Linked DNA regions of Homo sapiens: region 2 is reported to be linked to region 1. The links are microRNA targets in miRTarBase. Many come from high-throughput screens and were not tested one by one. Region 1 holds a microRNA gene; the other region holds the end of a gene's coding sequence.

Region 1 (7,117 bases):
CTCATTATTATAGTTGGATCTTATTCTCAGGCCAGGCACTTGTATCTGCCTCAGAATAATTACTGAGCTTTGAGGGCATTTTTTGCAGTGTCTATGCTACCGCCAACTCCCTCTACTTTCATCAGCAAAATGTAAGGCTTTGCAGACAATGCAATATGTGAAAAGAAATAACACATATCATCAGAACCAACACTAGTCAAGGGTAAAACTTTAAGGAAACACATTCCTTTAAGGAAACAGAAACACACACACACACACACACATGCACGTGCACACACATACACGCGTGCGTGCACACACACACCATGTTCCTTATGAGGACAGTCTCTCTATATATCCTATTTACTACTTTGTATTTTTCGGGACATTTCTTTATGCATATACATCTTTCACTCTCATACTTAAAATATAAAAAATAAGTAAGTTTTTAAAAATCCAATTAACTTTTTCAACTATGACTTTTTCAAACCTTTGCCTTTGCATACTTTGTCCCTAGCACTTTAACACTATTTGAATATTTTATAAATCAGGAACTTTCCAGTATATAATGAAAAGCTACAAACCTACACAGTTCCTCCATTTTCATTTAACAAATAATTATTGAGAATATGCTAGCTTTTGGGAAAACACTGGTGAGAAAATATAGTACCTCACTCTGTTTTGTTCTCATTTGGAGTCATTGGACTTTCTGCAATTTACTTGCCTTGTCCTATGCTCCAATACTGGAATTTTCCTACAAATTGACCCTGGATGTCCCCACCAACCCCCACCCAACCCCTGACTTTTGGTATTGTGTTGTCTCTGGAAAAAAGCCTACACTCCAATTCTGTCCCCATGGTCAACATCCCACCTTAATCAGATTTTATTTTTCCCAGCACATATCCAATAGTCCTCTTAAAATGGTCCTCCTTATGCATAAACACATACAAACTGACACTAACAAACAAAGCCACAGGGCCTATTTAGAGAGCCTAGATAACTGACAATTCTACATGTTGTAACTTCTAACTTTCCTCTCCTCATTCTACTAATCATCTTGTCTTCTGTCACTTACCTCCACCTCCTTTCTTTGCTTTCATCATAGATTCTCTCTCTCTCTCTCTCTCTCTCTCTCTCTCTCTCTCTCTCTATATATATATATATATATATATATATATATGAGTGTGTACGTGAACATCTAAGTAGGAATTTATTTTATTGCCTTTATATTATTAATCTGAAAATATCTTGGCTCTTGACTTCACAATCTGAAAGCCATAACATTTCTGCAATTTACTTTTATTGCTTAACTTTGTCTTTGTTGTTATATGTTTAGTATTTTATATTCACTCAGAGACCATGGCAATGGGTGCACTTTTATAAAGCTAAAAATTAAATGAATAAATTATAAATGAATATCGTTTCCTGTACACAAGCCCAGAGACTGAGGAAATGGCTACATTTTCAAAACCAGAATATAAATAATCATTTTTAAATCTGGGTGCAGAGTACATTTATGTAAATTACGTTCATTATTTCACTTTACAATTTTAAAATGTCATCTTCTGTATCTAAAGAAGGCATCAGGACTGTTACCCCAAAACCAGAGGTAAAAATGGCCCATGTTTCCATTACTCATTCTTATTATCATACTTTCTCAGAAATGGATTTGTAGTGTCACTTTCTCTGGTTGTTATATCTTTGCCAAGAAAAGGAGATGTAAGAATTCTAATGTTTGATACCCAACATGAAGACAGGTAGGATCACCTCTTGATTGGGCTATAACCTTACTGTGGAAGTTCTCACTTGAGAGATCCCAGCAAAGACTACTATGTGGGATTCAGTAACCAAACAGCCTCCCTTAAAGCACTGTGGCCTGCTTCTCTCACCAAAACACTAGCAAAATTAGGTTTTACTGTAGAGACAAAGATTGCAATGTGATGTGGCACAACATAAATACATCCTTGTAAGAATGATGGCAAGGAGAATTGCAAACAGTCAAGAAATCTTCCCAATTTTTGTTATCACCTGATGATGGCACCTTAAGAGTCTCCTCCAAAGCTCTTCTTCCCTCTGCAAAATAGTTATAGATTTTTTTTCATTCTCCATTCATTCTTGCTTACAAAACTGAGAGCTGTAATTCTTACAGCCTTCATTCTCCCCATTTTTACTGGAGTTATATGTTCATAGGAGACATCTTTCTGAGATGGTACTGAATAACAAGGTGAAAATAACTAATAAACATTATATAGAGTGAACATCAATCATGTCATTAAGAGCAAAAAAGTGTTTAGAAATATGTTTCTTTGTCTTTTCTATTTCACGTAATACTGATGCTTTGGGTAGTGGGGGGGAAACACTCCCCAAGGTTTTTTGCTGCATCTATCTTATAAATGATTCCCTTTGATCAAAATCTAGTGCAAGCTCACCTTTTTTAGAGTCATAGAGGCAATGATTTCATATCACAGTATTTTGACTCTTGACAGCTCAGTGGGAGTAAGGAAAATGAGGAGGGGGATTATGTAAAGGAGAGGAAAATGTTGGGGAGAGGAATTCAAAGTCAGGACAAAGATGACAGGCAAAGCATGAGAGCAGCTGTACAAAATGTTACTTGCTCTCTTCTAGAGATTGGTGTGCTGGAGTGAATGACAACTACTAATTAAAATGGTGGCTTATTATCATGTAAGAAGTGACACAATTTGTCTAAGACCTGGTGTAAAAGATGAATCACTTTTATTTGTAGAAAATTCTAATTTAAAAATATGCATTTTTAGATGAACATCTGTGGTGTTTTTGACAGGAGACATGTGATAATTAAAACCTTTTTTATTTTCTGACTGAAATGTTCATATTATATTTTTGCTGTGTGCCAATTTTTATATTTCTATAAATAAGAACAAAGCAAGTTTTCTAGAACAACTAGAAGTTTATACGATTTATAATTTTTAAGTCCAAGTGTCAAAATTAGATACCTAAATCATGATTATAAGTTTGTATATTGCCAAAAAATATATTGGATATTAACTTTCCAACTTAATGATCTCTTTTTTTTAAATGGATTTCTATTAAAGCAGATGAATTGGTCTTTTGCAGGACAAATGTACGTTACTGTTCTCAAAACACTTACTGCCTGGTGCTTTTTTTTTTAACTTTTTGAGAGCTTAAAAAAGATAGCCTTGGATTTGCTCTACTTTATACATATCTTTCACAGTTAAGAGAATAATTCTCAAATTATACACATGCGGCAAGTAATTTTATTATTCCAAGTAAAATATGTATCTCTCTGATACCAAACAGTTGTTTATGATTTTCAGAATTTGTCAGGATAAGTTAAAGCATGCCATAAATGGACAAGAAAATGCCTCAATCAGATAAACAATAATACTAAATAAGCAGATGTTAATATAAAAAATAAAGGAATAACTTATTTTATTGCACTTCACTTTTTGGCCCTCTGCAGATGTTGTGTGTGTATGTGTGTATGTGTGTTTAACAAATTGAAGGTTCATGGCAATTCTGCATCAAGCAAGTATATTGACACCATTTTTCCAACAGCATGTGCTCACTTCATTTCTCTGTGCCACATTTTGGTGATTACTTCTAACATTTTCATTACTATTATGTCTGTTACAGTGATCTGTAATCAATGATCATCAATGTCACTATTGTAATGGTTACAAACTTAGCCCATATGAGATGGGAAACTTAATTGGCAAATGTGTGTATTCTGACTGCTCCACAGACCAGCTGTTACTGCATTTCTCTCCCTCTCCACATGTCTTTCTATTCCCTGAGACAAAACAATATTGAAATTAGTCCAATAATAACCCTTCAATGGCCTTTAAGTGTTCAAGTGAAATGAAGAGTCACACATCTCTCACTTTAAATCAAAAGCTGGAAATGATAAAGCTTACTGAAGAGGGCATGTGGAAAGCTGAGGTAAGCTGAAAGAGAGGCCTAATAGACAAGTTGTGAAAGTTAAAAAAAAAGTTCTTGAAGAAAATTAAAAATGTTACTTCAGTGAACACGCAAATGAGAAGAAAGCAAAATGGCCTCACTGCTGCTATGGAGAAAGTTTCAGTCATCTGGATAGAACAGATCAACCACAATATCCCCATAAGCCAAAGCCTTATCCATAGCAAGTCTCTAGTTCTTCAGTTCTATGAAGGCTGAGAGAAGTGAGGAAGCTGCAGCAGAAAAGTTTGAAGCTAACAGAGGTTGGTTCATTTGGTTGAAGGAAAGAAGCTTTTTCTGTAATACAAAAGTGTAAGGTGAAGTAGCAAGTGCTGATGGAAAAGCTGTAGTAAGGTATCTAGAGCTAAGATAAATGATGAAGGTGGCTACACTTTCCAACTGATTTTCAATGTAGACAAAACAGACTTATATTTGAATAAGATACCATCTAAGATTGTAGCTAAAGAGGACAAGTCAGTGCTTGGCTTCAAAGTTCCAAAGGACAAGCTGACTATTTTTAGGGGATAATGCAATTGGTGACTTTAAGTTGAACCCAATCCTTACTATTCTGAAAATCCTAGGGCCGTTAAGAGTCATAATAAACTATCTCTGCCTGTTCTCAATGGAACAGCAAAACCTAGATGGTAACTTGTATGCTTACAAAATGATTTACTGAACATTTTAAACCCACTGCTGAGGCCTGTTCCCCAGAAACTAGAAAAAATTCCTTTCAAAAGATTACTGCTTATTGATAATCATGTGCTCATCCAAAAGCTCTGATAGGGATATACACAAGGTACGTTTTCATCCCTGCTAATAAAACATTAAATCTGCAACACAAGGATCAAGGAGTAATTTAAGCTTTCAAATTCATTATCCAAGAAATAATTTTTGATATAATTCCTCCGATGGACCTGGGCAGAGTAAATTGAATACCCTCTGGAAATACTTCATTATTCTAGATGGCATTAAGAATGTTTATGATTCAAAGGAGAAGGTCAAAATATCAACATTAATGGAAGTGTAAGTGAAGTGAATTCCAACTCTCAGGGATGCCTTTGAGCGATTGAAGACTTCAGTGGGGAAAGTAATTGCAGATGTAATAGAAATTGCAAGAGAACAATTAGATGCGGAACTTGAGGATGGAACTGAACATCTATAATTTCATGATAAAACTTCAACAGATGTGGAGTTTGTTTTTATGAATGAACACAGAACATAGTTGCTTGAAATGGAAACTACTTCTGGTAAAGATGCTATGAACACTGTTGAAATGACAACATATTTAGAATATCACATACACTTGGTTGAAAAAGCAGCAGCAGGGTTTGAAAGGATTGACTCCAATTTCAAAAGAAGTTTTACTGTGAAATTCTACCAGATAGCATTGTATGCTTTGGAGAAATATGCATGAAGGAAAGAGTCAATCAATGCAACAAACTTAATTGTTTTCCTATTTTCAGAAATTGCCACAACCATTCTAACCTTCAGCAACCACCACCCTGATCAGTCAGCAGCCATCAATATCGAGGCAAGACTCTTACAGCAAAAAGTCTATGACTCTCTGAAGGCTTAGCTGGTTTTTAGCATTTTTAGCAATAAAATAAAGGTATGTACATTGTTTTTTAGATGTATTGCAATTGGAATTATTTTATATGCACTAGAAAACCAGAAATAAAAAATATGTGACTTACTTTATTGTGACATTTGCTTTATCGCAGTGGTCTAGAATAAACTTGCACTATCTGCAAAGCATGCCTGCATGTGTATTAAATGAAAACAGCACAGTTTAGCTTGGTATTTTATTTTGTCTTAAGTTCTTTTTCCAAGCCATATCTTTAGGCCTCTACTTCTATTCTCAAAGCAGTTTATTTCGATCTTCCCTTTCTAAGAAGTTTGTTGCTTCCTCATTTTTGTTGTCTTTGCTGTTATTTCTACACATATTTTAACCACACTGTCAAGACTGAGCACATTATGTGTGTTAGGGGTATGAGGAGGGAGTCAGTGAAATTAATGCATGCAGGAAAGATGTCGGAAGAACAAATCCAATAGAGATCTAAGGCAAGTGGCATAGGAAATACTGCCAGCAGACAAGAAGGTAGAATATAAAAACTAATATTTAAGATGTTTCCATTTACTTCCAGGAACTGTACTAGCTGTTTGACAGAAAGTATCTCATTAAATCCTCAATAAAACAGTGTAATATATTCATTATAATTTCTGTTGTAAAGATAAAATTTTTAGCTCAGAGAAGTATTCTATTTTTTACAATCACAAAGGCTATATAGAAATTACAGCTTTAATTCAGATTATATAGATTTCAAATACATGTGTCCCTTTCCATAATACACTGACTTCTAAGTAAAAAGAATAAATAAAATAAAGTTTTGATGTTTTAAAACTTCTTCTTCAATATGTATCCTTGTCTAATAGCTGGAATGCATCCTGTGACTTTGACTGGCAAAGGAAAAGGATATACCAGAACTTACTTTTTAAATATAAATTAAATATTAATACTTGAACTCCTTTCTCACACCATATATGATAATTGACTCAGAATAAATCAAAGACTTAAATGCAAGAGTTAAAACTAAAAAACAAAAAATAATCTCAGAAGAAAGCATGGAGAAAAATTTTCACAATCACATTTGATGGTGGTTTCTTAGATGAGATACCAAAGGTATAAGCAACAAAGAAAGAATAGCTAAAATGAACTACAATAAAATTAACAGTTTTTGTGCTTCGAATGATACCATTAAAAAAGTGAAAAATAAAGAGAAAATATTTGCAAATCATATATCTATTATATGACTTCTGTGTAGAATACAAAAACAACTATTACAACTCAATAATACAAAGACAACCTAAGTAAAAATTGACCTGGCTAGACATTTCCTCAAAAAGAATATACAAATGGACAATAAGCACATAGAAAGATGCTCAAAATCATTATCATCAGAGAAATGCAAATCAAAAGTTCAGCAAGATACCACCTCATACCCACTAGGATAACTGTAATAAAATATCAGATAATAACAAGTGTTAATGAAGATGTGGTAAAATAAGAATCTTCTTTCATAGCTAGAGAGAATGTAAAATGGTGCAGCCACCTTGGAAAACAGCCTGAAAGTTGCTCAAAAAGTTAAGCATCAAGTTACTATTGGACCCAGCAACTCTACTCCTA
Region 2 (7,101 bases), not on the chromosome of region 1:
TCCTAAAGAGCTCAGGGCATATGGCATGTACAAATGGGCAGCATTGTGTCAACTCTAAGAACAACATTAATCAGGGAAGTCAAAGGATGGCAAGCTGGGTGGTAGCGTGCAGGGACGTGAAGAGGGAAGGAAGGCCGCTGTCAGATTAGCAGCTCTAGTCTTCAGTTGGTGTTGGAGAGGTGACTCACTGGCCAAACGTGTGCATGCAATGCTCAAATCTTTTCACTTTCCTCTATGAACACACTGAGGCCCTGCCTTCTCCTTGACCACCTGCCTCCCTGTGTCACTGCCCTGATGTCCCATTCTTCACTGTTTTCCTAGCTCAGCTGCCTCTCAGTCAGAAAGTGAAAACAACATTTCTTCTGGGGCTCCCAGAGTGGGGAGGTTGTTGCTACCCTTTCTCATTTTGGCTGGTGAAAGAGTGAAGGTAGAAACTGTGGTAAGAGCCCCCTGAGATTGCCTGTGTCCAGCCCTGAGGAGCCTGCCGTGGGGAGCGGGGAGTGAAGTGGAACATAAAAGGCCCTGGAGGCTGGGTGTGGTGGCCCACACCTGTAATCCCAGCACTTCAGGAGGCCAAGTGAGGCGATCACTTGAGGCCAGGAGTTCGAGACCAGCCTGGCCAACATTGTGAAAAATACTCTACTAAAAATACAAAAGTTAACCGCGCATGCTGGCGTGCTCCTGTAATCCCAGCTACTCAGGTGGCTGAGGTAGGAGGACTGCTTGAACCCTGGAGGTGGAGGTTACAGTGAGCCAAGATTGTGCCACTGCACTCCAGCCTGGACGAGGGAGCGAGAGTCTGTCTCAAAAATAAATAAATAAAAAAAATATTTAAAAAAAAAAAAAGAAAGAAAAAGGCCCTGGAAATGGAAAGTCAGCCATGGTCCAAAAGCTCTCTCAATTCTTCTTTGGGTCTAGTCTCTACACTCCAAAGAGCTTTGATTCTCTGTTTCTGAGAGGCAGGGACATATGAGCAAACCTTTTTTGAGGTTACCCAACCATTGTCCTATGTGCTGTTACCTCCACACCCTGGCTAGGGAGAAGCGGAAGGAGGAAGATTTTTGGAGTAGACATCCAAAGTCAATAGGTGGAGTGTCAGGTGACTGGGCCCAGCCCCTCTCATAAGCCACTGGGGTCCTGCTGAAGACTTGCTGTTTCCTTGTTCCTGGTCTGAGCCTGGCTCTCGGCCCAAGGCTTGCCTGACAGGCAGCGATTGGAAAAATAGCCCCTGTAATCCCCTGCAGCCTGTGTTCATCTGAGCCTCAATGTTCCCATCTCTAGAATGGGAGTATGTTTCTTTTTGGTGATGTATATTGTAATTAATTTGTAGTTGTCTGTACTCCACTGGCAGAGGTAGGGAAGGAAAGTGCTGGCCCCATAAAATGTTTAGATTAGTTGCATTTGCTAATCAGTCTGATCTTCCCATGCCAGGCCCTAAAGAAGCCACAGTCTGAATTCTTTTTCTTGAACTCTTGTCTGAAATGAAACACAGTATCTTCAGACAAATTAGAGCATTCTGAAAACACCTTTGGACACAGTAGTCCTAGCTTTCTTCCTCTTCTCTAAAGTACTCAAGGTTAGGAAGCCAGAAGTTTGCCACTCAGGGAAAGAAGTAGCCTTTGTTTGACCCTCTATGCTCACAGCAGAACTGGTAGATCTGGATAGAGGTAGCAAGTAAGTGAGCAGTGGGAACAAGGCCAGAGGTGGCAGAGGCAGAACATAGAAGAGTTCAGATCCTACTCAGTAAATGTGTGTCTTTTTGTTGTTGTTGTTTGTAGAGATGAGGTCTCACTATGTTGCCCAGGCTGGTCTCAAGCGCCTGGCATCAAGTGATCCTCCTGCCTCACGCTCCCACAGTGCTGGGTTTACAGGCATGAGCCACGGTGCCTGGCTTCAATCAATGTCTTTGATGCAATGCATCCAGGAGGCAAACAGTGGTCTGCAGGCCAGGGGCATTGGCACTGGTGATCACCACATGCCTGTAGAGGTGCAGCATGGGGTTCTCTCCTAAGGCTGCCGCTTCTCTGCTGCCCACATGGGTTTCAGCTGGCCCCTTAGAGAGTAGGCAGTAGGATGACAGCTCATCATACTGCTGACAGTGAAGGGAGCAGGCTGGCCCGGGAAGGCCAGCACCTGTAAACCAAGCTGTGTCACTGTATGAAAAATGAAGAGCTTGGTGGTGCTGGACCCTGAATGCAGGGTTTGTTTCTTTCTGAGTAGAATCTCCATTCTCCATTCCACATTAGTCATGCTTTCAGCTCTGGGATATCTGTACCAGGTGAGCACAATCAAATAACCTGTGTCTACTTGGCTGCAGTGCGTTATGGGTCTCTCTGTGGAGGTATCTTCCCCTAGGGCCTGACTGAGGCTGTTATTAAACTGATTTTTTATGTCTCAGACCACAGTGGGCTATTGGAGGAGAGGAAGAAACCTCCAACGTATTAGCAGAGAGCTCTCAAAAGTTGGCTTAGAGTCATGCATTTGCCCCGAGTAAGCTGAGACAGATGGACATCCCCACAAATAAAGATCTGAGCTCCTTTTATACATATGTCAGCAAGGACCTCAGGGCTGGTGCCTGAATTTTTAGCTCTAGTTCCGGCTCTCTGAACTTTTTTTTTTAATGCCTCATTAGGCCAGGGTTGTAATAAACTAGTTAGGTGACTAAAGAGAACCAATTCCTGGAAATGATTATGAAACCTTCCATGCACGAGCCTAAGAAAAAGAGAGAGAGAAAGACAGAGAGAGGGAGAGAGAGAGAGAGAGAGAGAGAAAGAAAGAAAGAAGCAAACCTTTAGAGCTTTACACAGGAAGGGACCTGACCAGATACTCAGACTATACATCCAAGCAAGGGGGAAGGCAGGGGACACAAAGATCGAGAATGCAGCTGTGGAGGTGAGGTGCTTTGCATGAAGTCCCAGTGTGCCCTTTCCTGAGTAGTGTAACTTAACTTCTCTGGTCCTCAGATTTCCCATCTATGAAATGGGAATGATCACACCTACCTTACAGAAATGTTACCGTAACTGTGATACACAATGTGAAAACACCTAGGATAGTGCCTGCTGTGCAGAAACACGTTAACAAGCAGTAGCAGCGTTAGTAAGTAACAGTGTAAAGTGAACTGCAGAAATGCACCCGAACCTGAGAATCTGCTTGATCTTGTGAAAATCAATGGTCTCCCTGCATCCTCGATTAGATTCTAATCCTAAGTTAGAAATCCCCAGGGAGGCTTCCCTGATTCTGGCCTAGGGATAGATGTTTGCCTGCCCCTCATCTCAGTGGTATAGGCATCATGCTAGCCGGAGGTATAAGATGAAAAACAACAGCACTGACAATACCAAGTGGTGGAGGTGGCCTCCTCTGCCAGTTTGGCCTCTGGCCCTTTAAATCAACCCTCCTGACTACTCCATGGATCAGTTAGCCCATAAAGGAGAGCTGTGAACACTTGGGGCTTCCCCGCTTCTCTCCCTGAAAGTTCTTACTCAGATCTTATCTCTGCCCCCTCCAAACTCTTGGCCCTGGGACTCTAATCTGGCCCTGCCCTGGCCTTTTGAACTCTTACCAGCTCCACCTCTGGTGGAGCTTAACTTTCCCTATAACGGCCTCCCTGCTAGAAACGCTCCTGGCTCTAGCCACGTGGCCAACACTCTTGCTGGGCTGGTTGTCTCCTCCCTCCCCTTCTTCCCCCAAGATGGGGTAGTCAGACAGAACATTCTAGCTGCTGAATTCCACAATGAAAGTATTAGAGCCGTTTGGAGGAAGGAGAGGTCCTGGAGAAAGGTGGTCAGGGAAGCCCTTGAGGAAGAATAGGATCTGATCTCCAGATCCGAGTGGGAACAAAAGAGTCCTGTACAATTTCATGGCTTAGTCCAGGGACTGGCAGATTCTGGCTCAAGGGCCAAATCCAGCCTCCCTCCTGTTTTGGGAAATAAAGTTTTGTTGGAACACAGCTGCGGTCATTTGTTTCTCGATTGCCTGGCTGCTTTTGTGCTGCAACGGCAGAACTGAGTAGTTGCCATAGAGACTGTATGGCCTGCAAAGCCTAAAATGTTTACCATGTGGCCCTTTACTGAAGAGTTGGCCAACCCCGGGTTTAGTGCATCAGGCTTCCCCAAACAGTGATGTGAGGAACTCCAGCCCCTTGGGACTGCTTCAATCAAACACAATAATCCAACACATCTGGGAAACACACATTATGTCCCCATCCCGAGGTGTGAAAACCCAGGGTGTTTCACAATACACCTCCATATAGCAAAGGCTCCAAAAGATCCTGCATAGAAGAATGTTTGTGGTTTCCCAGCATTTCCAAAACTTCATTAATCTACCAAACCTCCTTTTCCTCAGAACACCTTTTCACATCCTGAGAATCTAGCATTAGAAACAGTCTGGGTGCTGGGCCCATCCCTGCCACAAATGAGAACCAATTCCTGGGAATGATCATGAAACCTTCCATGCACAAGCCTAAGAGAGAGAGAGAGAAAGAAGTGAGCCTTTAGAGCTTTACACAGGAAAGGACCTGACCAGATACCTAGATCATAAATCCAAGCAAGGGGCACGGCGATCCAGAACATAGCTGTGGAGGTGGGCTGCTCCGAGTGGCCTTTGCTGAAGTACACACCTTGCAGAGCCTGCTCCCTCATTGGTTGAATAGGATCCATGATGTCTGTCCTATCTCCGTTACAGGATTATTTGGGGCAGGTCATTGAGAAAGCGAACAGGAAAATAGTCTCGAGGGACGACTGTGGTATCCTTGATTTTTGACAGTGAGTTTTGCTTTGGTACAATGCTCAGCAATGGTGAAGTGAAAAAGGCCCTGAACCAAGGTCACGAGTTCTCTTTGCTAGTCCTCACAGTGCTATAACTAACTGGGTTAACTGGGTGACTTTAAACAAGCGCCCCCCACCTGTACCCTTAACCCTGTTGGGCCTCAAGTCCCTCTCTTCTAGAATGAGGATATTAGACTAATCTCTAAAGATCTGTTAGCTCTGAAATTCTGCGATTCCATGTGGTTAGATGTGTGCAATTTTCCTACTTATCCAAAACAACAGGTTTCTCTTATAAGCCATAAAACCGGCATCTCCTTGATTTTCTTTGTACAGTGTCTGTGTTCAGAACCAGATATAAGGGGGTATTACTGAAGGATTTCTGTGCTGCTGACAGCTTAGAAGGCAGGACTAAGCCTTCTGGAAATGTCTACCTGGCAATTCTCAACTCGATATTGGTGCCTATTTTTCCTTTCTGCCTCCACCGCTCAGGCTGTTCCATCCAACAATGGAGCCCAGACAGTTTGCCAGCGGATCTGGCAAAAGAAAATAGTGGATGTGATTCCTGGAAAGGCAGTGGGGCCTAGGGTGGAGCGAAAGTTCCCTGACAAGCATGAGGTGATGTAGTTACAGGGCAGAATCCACATAAAATTCCTCTCTTTTGTCTCCCACCTCACCCCCAAAAACCATTTTCCAGCTTCACCAACAGTCCTCCATATCGAGGATTTATAAGCAGCTGAACAAGAGGGCCTTTATGAAGAAAGCAAGAATCTACTGAAAATACCCTGCTCCTCCATGAATGTAGGAAAATCCCAGAAAATCTTGGCCGGGTCAAAAGGTCTACGGCACAATAAGCCTGGGTCCAAATGGGGCGGGATGATGTGAGGAATGGGTGTTTGCCCTTTTGATCTCAGCGGAGAAACCAGCTGCCTGTGGGGTCATCTAGGGGACTCCCAAAAGGAGGGGCAGAAGCCCAGGGGGACCCAGAGTTCTTGCAGAGGAAGGGTGCCTAGAGGCCACTGAGCCCCCAAGTCAATCAGACACAGGTATTTATTGGGGTCCTACTGAGTTGGAAGTTCTCTGGGGGCATCATGAGACAGATAAAATGCAATTACTGCCTTAAAGGAGCTTAGAATCTACTTGAGAAGGCAAGGCTGGTACACTTAAATATAATACATGTGAATGGGAGGCTGAGTGCTAACAGTAGTCAGAAAAGGAGCCCCCAGCAAGGGCTGGGAGTGTTGATAGGGGATTTGTCACTTTCCACACTGATTGGAAGCCTCTTCTATTTTCAAACATTCAGGAATGGAAATTTCATGCTTTTCCTAGGTGACCTCTTCCAGTGTTTCATACACTGTTCTTGAAGTCTCCTTTGAGTCATCTTGTCACCTTTGGACGTGGATAATGCTTGACTTTCTTGGGCCCAAGGACAGCCAGCCTTTCTTCCATGGGTGGAGCACCGGCTGCATCAGCTTCTCTTCCCACAGGTGGAGGAAGGATGATGGAAAGAGGCTGGGGTCCTGAAGGCCTTTGATCTTGGTCCTTCTCCCATGGTAACTGAGCAGTTCATCTCTCTGTCCCTCAGGGTCCTGGATTTCTCTCTGGGGCAGTCAGGCTGGCCCCAGCAGGAAGAGAGTCATCCTGGAGCATCTTTCTTTCCACATGGGGCAGCTGGTCTGCTTGGGGGTTCACTTCCAGAAAATGTGTCATCTGAATTAAGGTGACCCTTTCTGCCTCCTGAGCTGCAGAGACACAGAGCAGACTGTGAGGGTTCTGGGTAAGGACAGCACTGACTTTGATTTCCTAAGAACCACTCCCAACCACTGCAAGTTTTCAAGAACTTTCTGACACAGAAGCAATGGAGCCCTAGTTGGCTAGGCTAAGCCAGCCTAGCCCATGATAGGGCTTGGACTTCGGGGCCTGGGTCTGAGAACCTTAGCCTCCTCCACTTGCTGCCAGAAAATCTCACCCTTTCTTCACTAGGTGTACATATCACAGAGCCCTCACTTTAAGAGTACTTAAACCTGGGCATGTTGCTCTCAGAGAATTTTAGCTGGGCTTTGCCAAAGGGGGAAAATGCGAGGTTTGATCCCAGGTCTGGGCCCTGCACTCCTGCTCTCTGCTGTGAGGGTTGCTTATGAGGCTTATGGTTAACATAGGCATCACAGCCTTTGTAATCTTCCAGGAGCTTCTCCTTGTGCTCTGGGATGCCATTGACACGTAAGTACAGAGATAATTTCTAATTTTATTGATTAAAAACCAAGGCAGTTTGGGCAGAGTGGCTCACGCCTATAATCCCAGCAATTTGGGAGGCCAAGGATCACTTGATGTCAAGAGTTCA

What was found. Region 1 holds the annotated microRNA hsa-miR-1261 (AUGGAUAAGGCUUUGGCUU, at 4,098-4,116, opposite strand). A microRNA usually pairs through its seed, bases 2 to 8, with sites in the 3' UTR of a target mRNA and lowers its output. Matches are read on the target gene's strand: a 7mer-m8 pairs with bases 2 to 8, a 7mer-A1 pairs with bases 2 to 7 and ends in A, and an 8mer does both.
Region 2: miRTarBase lists FCAMR as a target of hsa-miR-1261. Seed matches in the 3' UTR shown: 7mer-m8 at 6,159-6,165.

The regions. Positions count from the first base shown.
Region 1 is chr11:90,865,083-90,872,199 of GRCh38, forward strand. MIR1261 (microRNA 1261) reads right to left here and starts at 4,120; the gene lies at 4,039-4,120. The region is part of intron 6 of DISC1FP1 (DISC1 fusion partner 1); the gene reads left to right.
Region 2 is chr1:206,952,175-206,959,275 of GRCh38, forward strand. It overlaps FCAMR (Fc alpha and mu receptor), which reads right to left. Exons shown (of 8, transcript NM_001170631.2): 8 at 5,793-6,502. The coding sequence ends at 6,342. Among named protein-coding and RNA genes, the nearest start is that of PIGR, 9.3 kb to the left of the region's middle.